4 linked regions of the Homo sapiens genome follow. The protein of the gene in region 4 interacts with the protein of the main gene of each other region in a pairwise test. Each region holds a gene or a part of one and is shown on either strand. Other genes may lie near its edges.

Region 1 (2,651 bases), on a different chromosome or scaffold from region 4:
CCTAGAACTCCCTCTTGCTCCAACTTCCTCAACTTCTGTTGGCAATGATGTCATGTCTTCCTTCTAACTAGAAACTTTGTTTTCTCTCTTAGAATTACCTCTCTGAACAGGACTTTGTGTCTGTGTTTGGCATCACAAGAGGGCAATTTGCAGCTCTGCCTGGCTGGAAACAGCTCCAAATGAAGAAAGAAAAGGGGCTTTTCTAAAGCAAGAAGGCCTATACCTATTGCAAGGCCACAGAAAAGAGCAGATAGTGCCAATATCAGGAAATAATTTATCCACCAATTTCTGCCTGACATTCAGCTACTTAATTTAGATATAATAGAGTCTGCAAATCACGGCATGTTCTCCATTTTTTCTCATCCTTGCATTCCTTGCTTGTTATATACCTAAAATGTTAACCATATAGTTTTTGGGTTTTGTGGCCCTCTAGCTAAAGCCTCAGCAGAAAGCACTAAAACTGCATAAATCTGGAGAAATCAAAAGAAAGAGAACCAAAAAACAATGCTTAAAATGTTTAATAACTTTATGTTTAATATTATACCAGGACCTACCTTTGTTTTCAATTTTAAGATGATTATTTCTAAAATCTATTTAGCCTGTAAATCATTGAAATCATATATGCACTCCATAGGCAAAATCCAAATACCCAGATCTGTAATGTGTCAAAGCATTTTTCACTTTTCAAATAAAGATACCTATAATGAACAAATGGAGTTATTTTCAGTATTCTGGGTCTGCTTGTTACGGTAATTTTATGTTATACTTGAAGAAATGTTTCAGTACTGGGGAAGTAAAGAGGCAATGTTAAGTGAGCTCTCTGGGTAACTGGACTACTCTAATTTCTGTTTCTGGCACAAGAATGTCAAAATCTGCCTTACAGCTGGCCAGGAAACCTCAGTACCCACCCACCCACACATCATCCAAAAGAGAAATAGGGGCATGTGTTATTAATTTCATTAAATGAGGCCAGAACCAGTGTGTCTACCACTGCAGAGCACCTTCAAAGCATACTACAGACAATCACAAAGAAGAGAACCCACATTTTCCAGACAACTCTAGGTTTGAATCAATAATCCTAAAGAAATCCATGTGGCACAAGTAATATAACTAGGGAGGTTCCGAGGCAGAAGCACGGTTCACAGTGTCGCAAAGCAAAAACAGAACAAAAGAGTTCTATGTCATAAAAGGTGTAAGACAGAACATATAAGTTAGAAATTTCAGAAATACCATAATAAATCTATGTTGAAGGGAGCAGCAGTATTGTTGATGCCTGTTCTCCACGACACTATCACGTCAATAAGGCCCACCTGTTGTTTTTGAAAGGCACAGAAAAGCTAAATCCAGTATTACGCAAACAAGGAAAAAATTATTTTTATTATACAACTATTTAATAATTTTACCCATGCATTCTCGGTCTGAAGAGGTTTGGGAAATATTCCTTTTTGTAATGATGTCCAGAGCTAAAAGTAAATATTCCTCCTGGGCCAAAAGTCTCTGGAACCTATTCAGTTTCTGCTGCCTCTTCACCTTCTCCACATTCAAACCGCACAAAGTCTACTACCGACACCCCCTGAGGCTGCACATACTGCCCCAAGGTAATGGAGGGATCCAGCAAATACGGCTGGGACAGCATCTTAGTCTCTGCCTCTCCCCCAGGCTCATCGTCCAGGGAGCCAACAGAGAGGGGGGCCATGCCCACCACATGCTGCCCAAGGCGGCGGCCAACGTCTTCAAGGTTTGTTTTCTGTTCAGACGTCTCACAGATGACCAGGGCCCCATACTTCCCCAGCACCAGCTTGTGAAGTGAGGGACTCTGCATTGCTCCGTGGACATAAGAGCCAACGTAGAACCCAGATGGCACCTTCACCCATGCAGCTCGTTTAAGAATCATGTTTTCTCCCAGTTTTCCTATTAAAGCAAAAACAAAAAACCAACACACCAACAAATTGTGATGTCTGTGATGGTACCAAAATATGCACAGAAGAGGCCCAGTTTGGAAGACAGTCCCTTTGCATTTACATAGGATATGCAGTAAGATGAAGAGATACCATTTTCAGTTTTTGTAGAAAGAGGAAAAGGGGTATGGGGCAGGAGAGCGGGAGTGGGGGAAGTGAAGAATACCTTTATGAAGCACCAACTATGTGCCAGGCACTCTGGTACTTAAAAACAGGCCGGGTGTAGTGGCTCACGTCTGTAATCCCAGCACTTTGGGAGGCTGAAGCGGGTAGATCACCTGAGGTCAGGAATTCAAGACCAGCCTGGCCAACATGGATGAAACCCTGTTTCTACTAAAAATACAAAAATCAGCTGGGCGTGGTGGTGTGCACCTGTAATCCCAACTAATCAGGAGGCTGAGGCAGGAGAATCACTTGAACCCAGGAAGCGGAGGTTGCAGTGAGCCGAGATCGTACCATTGCAGTCCATCCTGGGAACAAGACTCTCTCCAAAAACAAAAAAAACAAAAAAAACAACAAACATAGGTTGTATAGGTTGTGGTGACACAAGTATGTGTGACTCAGGTCTCAGTTCTGCCTATTTACTGACTATATGACCTCGGGCAAGTGACTCAATGACATAATCTCATTTACTAAATTTATCAAGCCTTTGTTTCCTCACCTTTAAAATAGAGATGACACCACCTACCTTTC
Region 2 (3,500 bases), about 42 Mb from region 4:
CTGTCTCCCCGGCTGGAGTGCAGTGGTGCGATCTCGGCTCACTGCAAGCTCCGCCTCCCGGGTTTTACACCATTCTCCTACCTCAGCCTCCCGAGTAGCTGGGACTACAGGCGTGCACCACCTACGCCCGGCTAATTTTTTTTTTTTTTGGTATTTTTAGTAGAGATGGGGTTTCACCATATTAGCCAGGATGGTCTTGAACTCATGACCTTGTGATCCGCTCACCTCGGCCTCCCAAAGTGCTGGGATTACAGGCATGAGCCACCGCGCCCGGCTCAGTTAAATCTTATACCCAGAGAAGGAGGTAGCTACTATTCTTATCTTCATTTTATAGATGAGGAAATGGAGGCCCAGAGAGGAGTGAAATTCTGAAAGTCACACAGCCTGGAAGTGATAGGGCAGGAATGTGACTGCCTGCCCCAAAGTCCTTGCCTTTCACAACCAGGCTTTGCTGCTCTTGTAGTTTCCAATGTTTACTGTTGTCTTTCAAAAACTCTTCCTGGCATATTGTTAGGGAGAGACATTTTGTCCCTGTCACTCTGCCTCCTTCAATAACAGTAGATCTGTTAATAAGGCTGATAATAACAGTAATATTAGTAATAATAGCAAGAGTAATTAATAATCATTGGTCTTTCTTTTTTTTTTAGACATGAGGTCTTGCTCATCTCTAAAATGAGCAATGCTACTGCAATCCAACCTGGGCAACAGAGCAAGACCCTGCCTCAAAAAAAAAAAAAAAACAAACAAAACCCTAAATAAACCAACAAACTAAAGGCACAGATAATTATAAGCAAGATTTTTCACCTGTGTGAGGAGCACTAGAAAGTCATGAAGAGGAAAGGATAATTCTTTTCCATATGAGACTGTCTTGTACATGGTAGGGTATTTAGTATACTGGCCTCCCATTCTCTAAATGCTCAGGCTGGTCTCGAACTCCTGGGCTCAAGCAATCCTTTGCCTCAGCCTCCTGAGTAGCTGGGATTACAGGTGCATACCACTGTACCTGGCTTTTTTTTTTTTTTTTTTTTTTTGAGACAGAGTCTTGTTCTGTTGCCCAGGCTGGAGTGCAGTGGTGTGATCTCAGCTCACTGTAACCTCTGCCTCGCAGGACAATTCTTGTGCCTCAGCCTCCTGAGTAGCTGGGATTATAGGCGTCCACCACCACGCCTGGCTAATTTTTTGTATTTTTAGTAGAGACAGGGTTTTGCCATGTTGGCCAAGCTGGTTCTGAACCCCTGACCTCAGGTGATCCACCTGTCTCTGCCTCCCAAAGTGCTGGGATTACAGGCGTGAACCATCACACTGGCCTGTACCTGGCTCTTCATTGGTCTTTACTATACAGAGAGTGCTGTGGTAAACACTTTATTCCACCTAAACTCCCGTTTTGATCTCTCATTCCCCTGAGTGACTGACAGCCCCAGAGTCTCATCAATGCACCTTCAATTTCTTTGTCACTTTCTCGTCACTAGTCATGTCCTGCAAACTGGCCTCCTTCTGGTCCACCCCAGGGCCTTTGCACATGCTGTTGTTAGACTGAAACACTCTACTCCCTTCTCAGATTGCTCCTCTGGAAACCTGCCCTGAGACCCTGGGAGCAGTTTCTTGGTCGTATTTCTCAGAATGTCTCAGACCACTTCACTTGCAGTTGTGTGACTGAACTCACAGCATGAGCTTAGAATATAGTAGGCACTTAGTAAATACTAACTGAATGAATGCATAAACCCATAGGAGAAGATTGAAGCGAAAGAATGACCTAGAACAATGGTTTTCAGAAAACTGTTGTAGAACTACGTGGAAACCTAATAACATAATGATTGAGGGGCACTGCAGGCACTTAGAGAATGGTAGGCAGTTATACTAAATACCCTACCATGTACATGACAGTCCCATATGGGAAAGACTTATCTTTTCCTCTTCATGACTTTCTAATGTCCCTCAAAGAGGTGAAAAATCTTGCTTGTAATTACCTGTGCTTTTAGTTTGCTTGTTTGTTTGGGTTTTTTCTTTCTTTCTTTCTTTTTTTTTTTTTTGAGACAAGGACTTGTTCTGTTGCCCAGGTTGGAATGCAATGGCATAATCATAGCTCACTGTAATCTTGAACTCCTGGGCTCAAGCAATCCTCCTGCTTCAGCCTTCCAAGTAGCTAGAACTACAGGCACCTGCCGCCACACCTGGCTAATTAAAAAACTTCTTTTGTAGAGATCGAGGTCTCCTTATGTCGCCCAGGTTGGTCTCGAACTCCTGGCCTCAAGCGATTCTCCTTCCTCAGCCTCCCAATGCACTGGGATTACAGGTGGGAGCCACTGCACCTGATCCTGTGCTTTTAGTTTAAACCTAACTCTTTTACATAAGAACACAACATATTTTTTGTATGTTTTTAATATACATTGCATTTTCCTGCAATGCAACTATTAAATAAATGGAAGAAAGACTAGACTCTTTTGTATATGGAACTTTGCCAAGAGGTGTTCAACATTGTGGAACATCTTGACACTGCTGGCAACTCCCCTCATGTGGTTTGAATTGTCCACACAACCCAGAGTTAGCCATCATTTGTGCCTGTCACTTCATGGTGATTTTGTGTATGGTGTACATATCAGAATTACTTCACTATGTCCTCCAGAGTCTCATTACTCAAAATGTGGTCCCTGGACCAGTAGTATCAGCCTCATCTGGGAGCTCGTTGCAAATGCAGAATCTCAGGCTCCACTGAGTCCTTAGCCCTACGGAATTACAATTTGTGTTTTAACAAGATCCCTGGGGATTCACATACACATTAGATTTTGAGAAGTGCTGGCCTACCTCATATGTCATACAACAGGATCACTTAAACCCATCATTAAAAAAATCAATATTATGCCCTGATGGTAATATAAAAGAGGACTAAGAGCAGGTTAATTTGTAATAGGACAATGTCTACGATGTCTATTTTAATGGGTAAGTTGTTGAGTCCCTATATGCAGAATCACTATAGCATCTGCTAGAAAGTATTACAAAATGTCGTTATGAAAAAGAGGATGCTGGTTCTGAATGGATAAGTTGCTGGCCTGGAAGATGCCTCAAAAGCTTTCTAACATTTTTATTTATTTTTAAAAGGTGAGGTCTCACTATGTTGCGCAGGCTGGTCTTGAACTCCGGGGCTCAAGTGGATCCTCCCACCTTGGCCTCCCAAAGTGCTGGGACTACAGGCATGAGCCACCACATCCCGCTGCATCCAAAGCTTTGAAACTCTGCTCTCCCTTCAATTCTAACGGCCCAAAGTGCCTTTTCTTTTTCTTTATTTTTTATTTTATTTTTTGAGACAAAGCCTTGCTCTGTCGCCCAGGCTGAAGTGCAGTGGTGCAATCATAGCTCATCATAGCCTAGACATCCTGGGCTCCAGTGACCCTCCTGCCTCAGCCTCCCAAGTAGTTGGGACTGCAGGTGCATGCCACCACATCTGTTTAATTTTTTATATTTTATAGAGATGGGGTCTGCCTCTATTGCCCAGACTGGTCTCC
Region 3 (3,500 bases), on a different chromosome or scaffold from region 4:
CCAGGTTTGGTGGCACACACCTGTATCCCCGGCTTCTTGAGAAGCTGCAGTGGGAGGACTGCTTGAGGCCAGGAGGTCAACGCTGCAGTAAGCCACGATTGTGCCACTGCGCTCCAGCCTAGGTGACAGAAGGACAGCTTGTTTCAAACACAAAACAAAACAAAACCCTTAGATGTAGGGTTGGGAAGGAGACGGGTGAACCAGGGATCATTATGGTGTCGCTTATATGTGATACAATGTCTAAACCAAGTCCACTCATAGTGGCCCACAAATGTTCAGATAGTAAATATCTGTTGGTTTTACCTGCCCTCCATCAATTCCCACTTCTGGGGAATGACAACTCCCCTAAAGGGTACTGGCTGAGTGAGGCAATAACCAAGGCACCTGCTGGGACCCAGTATGGGCCTGAAAGATATACTCTCAGTAGAAAGTGGGATTAAAAACTGCTGGAGAGGTTGGCCCTCCTGTATCCTGAGAAGACTGTCTACTGAGTCCTGCTACCTGGATCCCTGAAGCTGCTCTAGATCTGGTTCACTCTGAAGCCTGATTCTTTGGCATTGTTGTCACCACATCCCTCCAGTAATCTCTTTATGTTTAAAGTAGTCAGATTTAGTTCTTACTGCTTACAACCAAAGATCTCTGGCTGATTAGCTGTTATACTGTGTCTAGAAGAATTGCATTTTCTTAAAAATTGGGGGGATAAAATTTAATTTGATTGGCAAGTAATTAAACCATGAATTTCACATTGAAAAGGGATATATTATAGAGTAGAATACAAAATTCATGTAAAATTTTAAGATAATGGATTTTGAGATTTTAAAAACTACGCTTCCTCCCACTTCCCACCCTTCCTCTCTCCCTCCCCCATGCAAGTTCTTTAGTGATGGGATTAAGAAACACTGGTATAGACATAAATTTTCCTTAACTTTTAAGATCTGTCCCTAACTAGATAAAAGCTCTAGGGCAGGTTACTTAACCTTTCTAAGGCTCACTTTTCATACCTTTAAAATGGGATAATACTACCTACATGTAGAGCTGTTATCCCAAGAGGTAACACAGGAAACCATTTAGCACTGTTCCTCAGAACAGAGTTTTATCAATCATGGCAAACAAACAGAGTTTAGTTACTATAACAAAAGCAGGTTGGCACATATGTTGATGGCTGCAACAATTCCCTGTAGGCTATCCTGTGCAATATGACTTGGCAGCATTTGCCATCAAGAGGGGGTATCTTTGTCCAACTCCTAAAATTTGAGTTGGCCTTGTGACTTGCTTTGACTAGCAGAATATGGCAGAGTGGTACTGTGTGACTCTTAAGCTTAAGCCTCCAGAAACCTTGCAGTTCTCACCCTCCTGGAACAAAGTGCCTCCACCTGAGGAAATTTGATCTAGGCTGCTAGAAGATGAGATTATGTGGAGCTCAGAGAGATAGCCCAGCTTGACTAACTAGTTCTGACTCAAGACTTAAGAGGACTGCAGCCACATTAGTGACCTCAGGCCAGGCACTACCAATGGAGAACTGCTCTGCCCTAATTATGAGCAAATAAAATGGTATGTGTTTTAAGCCACAAACTTTTGGAATGGGTTGTTAACAATAGATAACTGACAGACATGCTTCATGAATTATCGTAATATTTCTATATTTTATAGTGTATTCACGTCCTAAAGTTTCCTATAACAAACTCTAAGGCCCAAAGTCCACAAAGAGTCACTATGTCACAGCCAGATGTGGTTACGTTTCTCATTCGTCAAGGCTAGATCAATGTTGCTAATTTCATATAAACAATGAACTGTATCTCCACCAGAATGTGGGGCATAGGAGATAGAACATACTCCAAAGCCAAAATAACTGAAGTGAAAATTTGCTAAAATTATCATAGTTAAACCACAAAGATGCAGGTGCAAATAAAGGTGAGTTGAATTTGAAGGTAACTGGCTAAGGAAAAAAAAGGAACAATTTAATTGATAATTAAAGCATTAAATTATAATCTGTTTTTTTTTTAAATTTAAAAACAAACCAGATTATAATAATGTTTAATAATCAAAATTATAGTTTTAGATTATAATTTAATAATTAAAACAGATTCTCCCCTGTAACAATTCTTGCTCCTGGCATTTTCTTCCATATACTTCAAAGATGACTAAAACCCTATTCTAAAAGTTCCATCTTATACATAGTCTCATTATATACCTTTTTTTCTATGAATAAATATTGACTGCATCATTCTTTTTAAAGATTGCAGCATATTCCACTACATGGATAGGCCCTAATTCACTTAATCCCCTATCCATAGGTATTTAGATCACTTTCTATGTTTTGTTATAAAAAAAGGACAGGTGAGCAATCTGGTACATACATCTGTGCATACTTCACCAACTGTTTCTTTAAATTCCTAGATGTGAATTTACCTTTTTTTCTTTTTTTGTAATGACTTTGGGTTCATATTGCCCAAACTGTTATCCAAAAGATACGTAGCAAATTTACTTTTTTTAACAAGAAGGAAACCCTTAAATGCTAAAAGTAAGAACACATTTTACACCTCTAATATCTATATATAAAATGGCAAACAATTTTTTAAATTGCATTCTATATCTAAAATACTGAGTCATGCCTCTTATACTGTATTTACTGTACATTTGGAGGGGGAAAAATCCTACAATACCCAAATAATCTCTAGTGGTTTTATTTTCAGCACAATGTTGTTTTGAAAAGGTAAACTCCAAAAAGAGTGTACTTGCTGCAAAATAAGCAAATCAGTAGAGAATGTTGAAAAGCAGGAAACGAAGCAAAAAATAAACCAATCAGTTAGAGCAGTTATCAGGTCACCAAATCTGCATCCTTACACAATGGCCAGGAGAGAAAGGTAGAGGGAGTGAAAAGGTGAAACTAAAAGAAGCAGCCCTCAGAGCTTCAGTGATGGCCGGATGAAATTACACACAGACATATATATCTACATGCTCTGTACACACCAATCCTAGAGCTAATCTCCAGGGGTTAGAACACAAGAGGAATTTTTGTGTGCTTTATAAAGCCAAACATATCATGCAGAAAGGGAATAGGGAAGGCCAGGATACAGATTTCCTTTAGGAAAGAATGTCTAGTTAGCAGCTTGAGAGGCCAGTATTAATTACTTCCCTTCCACGGCAAAGAAGGATTAATAGGAACATTAAGCAAAAGACAGCTCCAAAAGCACTGATTCCCTTCAAAAACCATCACATCTGAGAGGGTCCAATCATCAAGCTCTATAAAAAAATGGGCAAGGTGAGAACACTTAACAATAAATAAAATTAATTGGTGACAGAATCATGCATGTGCTAAGGCGGCCACACAATATGACTAATAAAAACTTATTGACTGAAGTTTCATCCTATCCAAAGAGATGAGGCATTAGATCAAACTGCCATACCAAAAGCAGAGTATGCTAAATAAAACAGCAGTGTGTGAGCACACACACACATACGTGTGTGTGCACATGTTGGGGGTGGTTGCTTGGCAATGC
Region 4 (3,500 bases):
CCGTCTCAAAACAAAACCAAACCAAAACAAAACAAAAAAACATTTGTTGCAGAGTAGAGGTATATGTTTATTTGATGATACTCATTCGATGCTTATTTTTGAGCCCCTGCTGTGTGCCAGGCAGTCTGTTAGGTGCCAGGGAAATGGGTAAACAAGACAGATCTGGGCCTGTGTGCGGCTCATAGCCTCGTGGGGAGACAGACATTTTGGGCTGATCGCTCTTGCTGCGGGGCCGTCCCATGCATCACAGGATGTGGGGCAGCCTCCCTGGCCTCCACCTATGGGATGTTGGGAGCATCCCTGGTTGTGAGAACCAAAAATGTCTCTGGACGTGGCCAAATGTCCCCTGGGGGGCAGCATTGCCCCAGTTGAGAACTGCTGGCTTAAGATATAAATAGGGTTATGGGAGAAGACAAGTGTGATGAGGAGGGGCTTTGGGGTCAGGAGACAGGGGGATGAGGGGGTGGTGACTGCCAAAAAGGGGCTCAGCGTGAGATGCTGCAGGGCACAGAACACTGCCCGGCTGAGAGCAGCAAGTGCAGAGGCCAGCGGCGAGCGGACGCTTGGGGAAATAGCGAGGGCCCAGCACAGCTGGGGCAGGGTGAGCTCCGGGCAAAGCGTGGGAAAGGTGAAGGGCAAGGTGGGCGGGACCAGAGAGAGGGACTTGTGCTTATAAGGCCTCTTTGTAGAATATCCCAGGCTGTCCATCTGTTCCCACTTTGTGAAGCTCTTTCTCATTGACACAGAAACTCATTCCAGTTCTCCAAAAATAGACACGTCCTACCGTTAAGCTGAGCTTGGAGAGTGGCCTTGGACTTGTAACCCTGCCTTTGCCCTCAGATTGAATGGTTTAAGGTGGTTATTGTTTTCTCGCAGAACACTGTCTCGGGTGAGGGTTTCTCAGCCTGGGCGCTGGCAGCATGTTGGGTCAGGTCCCTCTCCTTGTGGGGCTGCTGCTGAGCGCTCTGAGCGCAGCCGGGTGTGGAGCAGCCTCCCTGGCCTCCACCCAGCCGATGCCGCTAACCCTTGCCCTAAGTTATGACAACAAAGATGTCTGCAGACCTGCCGGGTCTCCCCTGGGGGACAGCATTGCCCTGGTTGGGAGTCACTGCTTTAAGCCAGCCCGGGTCCTAGAGCACTACTGCCCTGAGACAGCCCTTTGGGGGTCCCATCCTTCTGACAGGCATGGGGGCTGGCAAGGGTCCTGCACTTGCATCCTCCGGAGCTGCCTCCTTACACCCCGCTGCTGCCACCTTGGAATCCCACAGCCAGGGTGACCCCCTGCCAGCACCAGGAGCAGGTTCCAGAGGCCACCTGCAGGGTCAGGGTTTAACATGTAACTGCTGGTCCAAGGGGAGGGACAAGGCCTGGTGCAGAGGGGCCTCTTGTGGCAGCGGATGCTGGGCAGTGGCTCTTTACCAGCCTGTCCAGGGACGTTTCAGTCTCGTGGCCTGGGACCTCGTTACCAAACCGCTGGCCGAAATCAGCCCTCGGCCAAGGGCCCCGCCTTGGCCTCTGACCCTGAGCCTCCCTGGCCCCCAGGTTGCTCCTTCAGGCTGGCTACGACCCAGAGCTCCGGGACGGGGACGGCTGGACTCCCCTGCACGCAGCGGCACACTGGGGCGTGGAGGATGCCTGCCGCCTGCTGGCCGAGCATGGCGGGGGCATGGACTCACTGACCCATGCGGTGAGGGCCAGTGCCCAGGCTGGTGAGGGGCAGGGCGTGGGGAGGGCCCAGCACCTCCTTCATTGTCTGATCCTGCTCCTCCCCTGACCCAGGGGCAGCGTCCCTGTGACCTGGCCGATGAGGAAGTACTGAGCCTGTTGGAGGAACTGGCCCGGAAACAGGAGGACGTGAGTGTCAGGGCTGAGGGGCTTACCCCAGACTCCCCATGTCCCCTCAGCTCCTCAGAGGAGGGTGCAGAGGGGGAACCCCCCCGACTTCTGACACCCACCACCCCAGCGACCTGCTATTTCCCTCTTGGTGACCCAGCCCCAGCCCCAGCCTCAGGAGAGACCCCCAGCCGGGGCAGGACAGAGATGGGGCTGCAGAGCTTCCTGCCTGCCTGGTGGTGGGGGCGGCAGAAGGATTTGGACAGGGTTGTCTGACACCCTGATGAGGTTGCTTAGCACACCTCATCACCTCAGGGTGGCCCTTGGCAGCAGCCATGTGCAGGATTGTCCTAGACTCAGGCTGGGCTGGTCACCCACAAGGTGTCCCCCAGCCATCCCCGGGGCAGCCTTGCTGGGAAAACTTAGAGTGAAGGAGTGAAGGGCGTGAGCCTTGGCCAGACTGCCTGGGTTGGAATCCCGGCTCTGCCATGGATCTGCCGTGAGTCTCAGCCAGCCACTTTCCTTTCCGGGCCTCAGTTTCCTTATCTGTCAAATGGGAATGGTATGGTGCGCAACTGTATGAGGGGTCATGCGTGACACGTGGATTGTGCTGTCAGGAGCTCGGGGGAGTACGTGCCCCTGGAAAGCACTAGAGCCATGCCAGCGTTCAGTGAGCTCTGTGAGGTGACAGGAAGCTCCCAAGGCCAGGCCTAGGGCTTCTGGTGCGTGGGCAGGGGAGCGGAGACAGCTTCCTCTTTTGAAAGGTTGGCAGGAGCGAAGTGGAGGCTGATGGATGTAGGAGAAGATCTCACACAGGCTGGGGGGCAAGTGTGGGTGCCCTGAGGTGCCCAGGGAGGGGAGCGTAAGGCAGGGCAGACCCGGGAGGGCCACGAGTGCCAGGCGAGGAGCATGGTGGCTTCCATCCTGAGGGTGATACGGCCATGAGGGGTTTAATAGGTGGGGCAGGGTCAGCTCAGGGGGCCCAGATATGGGGGGAGACCAGCCTGGGAGCATCTGGGGACACTTTCTGGAAGACGTGAGTACTACAGCACTAAGAGTTTGCTAGAAGGGCAGGAATGAAGGGCCCTCCCAGTACAAAGGTGTGAAGACGGTGGTGAACTGCGCGGGGAAGGGGCGAAGACGGTGGTGAACTGCGGGGAAGGGGTGAAGACGGTGGTGAACTGCGCGGGGAAGGGGCGAAGACGGTGGTGAACTGCGCGGGGAAGGGGTGAAGACGGTGGTGAACTGCGTGGGGAAGGGGCGAAGACGGTGGTGAACTGCGAACTGTGCGGGGTAGGGGTGAAGACGGTGGTGAACTGCGCGGGGAAGGTGTGAAGACGGTGGTGAACTGCGCGGAGAAGGGGCGAAGACGGTGGTGAACTGCGGGGAAGGGGTGAAGACGGTGGTGAACTGCAGGGAAGGGGTGAAGACGGTGAACTGCGGGGAAGGGGCGAAGACGGTGGTGAACTGCAGGGAAGGGGTGAAGACGGTGGTGAACTGCGTGGGGAAGGGGTGAAGACGGTGGTGAACTGCGAACTGCGCGGGGTAGGGGTGAAGACGGTGGTGAACTGCGCGGGGAAGGTGTGAAGACGGTGGTGAACTGCGCGGAGAAGGGGTGAAGACGGTGGTGAACTGCAGGGAAGGGGTGAAGACGGTGGTGAACTGCG

The links.
Region 1: the proteins of PPP1R12C (region 4) and TSFM interact in a two-hybrid assay, tested with the Homo sapiens proteins (one large-scale study listed by BioGRID and IntAct).
Region 2: the proteins of PPP1R12C (region 4) and CACNA1A interact in a two-hybrid assay, tested with the Homo sapiens proteins (one study listed by BioGRID and IntAct).
Region 3: the proteins of PPP1R12C (region 4) and ATXN7 interact in a two-hybrid assay, tested with the Homo sapiens proteins (one study listed by BioGRID and IntAct).

Annotation. Positions count from the first base shown.
Region 1 is NC_000012.12:57,795,437-57,798,087, reverse strand, and holds the end of TSFM (elongation factor Ts, mitochondrial isoform 2 precursor), read right to left. Parts: intron 1,912-2,651; coding exon 1,505-1,911; 3' UTR 501-1,504; downstream 1-500. Other genes in the region: AVIL (advillin), read left to right, coding at 93-206. UniProt on the Homo sapiens protein: Associates with the EF-Tu.GDP complex and induces the exchange of GDP to GTP. It remains bound to the aminoacyl-tRNA.EF-Tu.GTP complex up to the GTP hydrolysis stage on the ribosome.
Region 2 is NC_000019.10:13,293,480-13,296,979, forward strand, and holds part of CACNA1A (voltage-dependent P/Q-type calcium channel subunit alpha-1A), read right to left. Parts: intron 1-3,500.
Region 3 is NC_000003.12:63,870,367-63,873,866, reverse strand, and holds part of ATXN7 (ataxin-7), read right to left. Parts: intron 1-3,500. UniProt on the Homo sapiens protein: Acts as a component of the SAGA (aka STAGA) transcription coactivator-HAT complex. Mediates the interaction of SAGA complex with the CRX and is involved in CRX-dependent gene activation.
Region 4 is NC_000019.10:55,097,138-55,100,637, reverse strand, and holds part of PPP1R12C (protein phosphatase 1 regulatory subunit 12C), read left to right. Parts: intron 1-1,542; coding exon 1,543-1,687; intron 1,688-1,779; coding exon 1,780-1,854; intron 1,855-3,500. UniProt on the Homo sapiens protein: Regulates myosin phosphatase activity.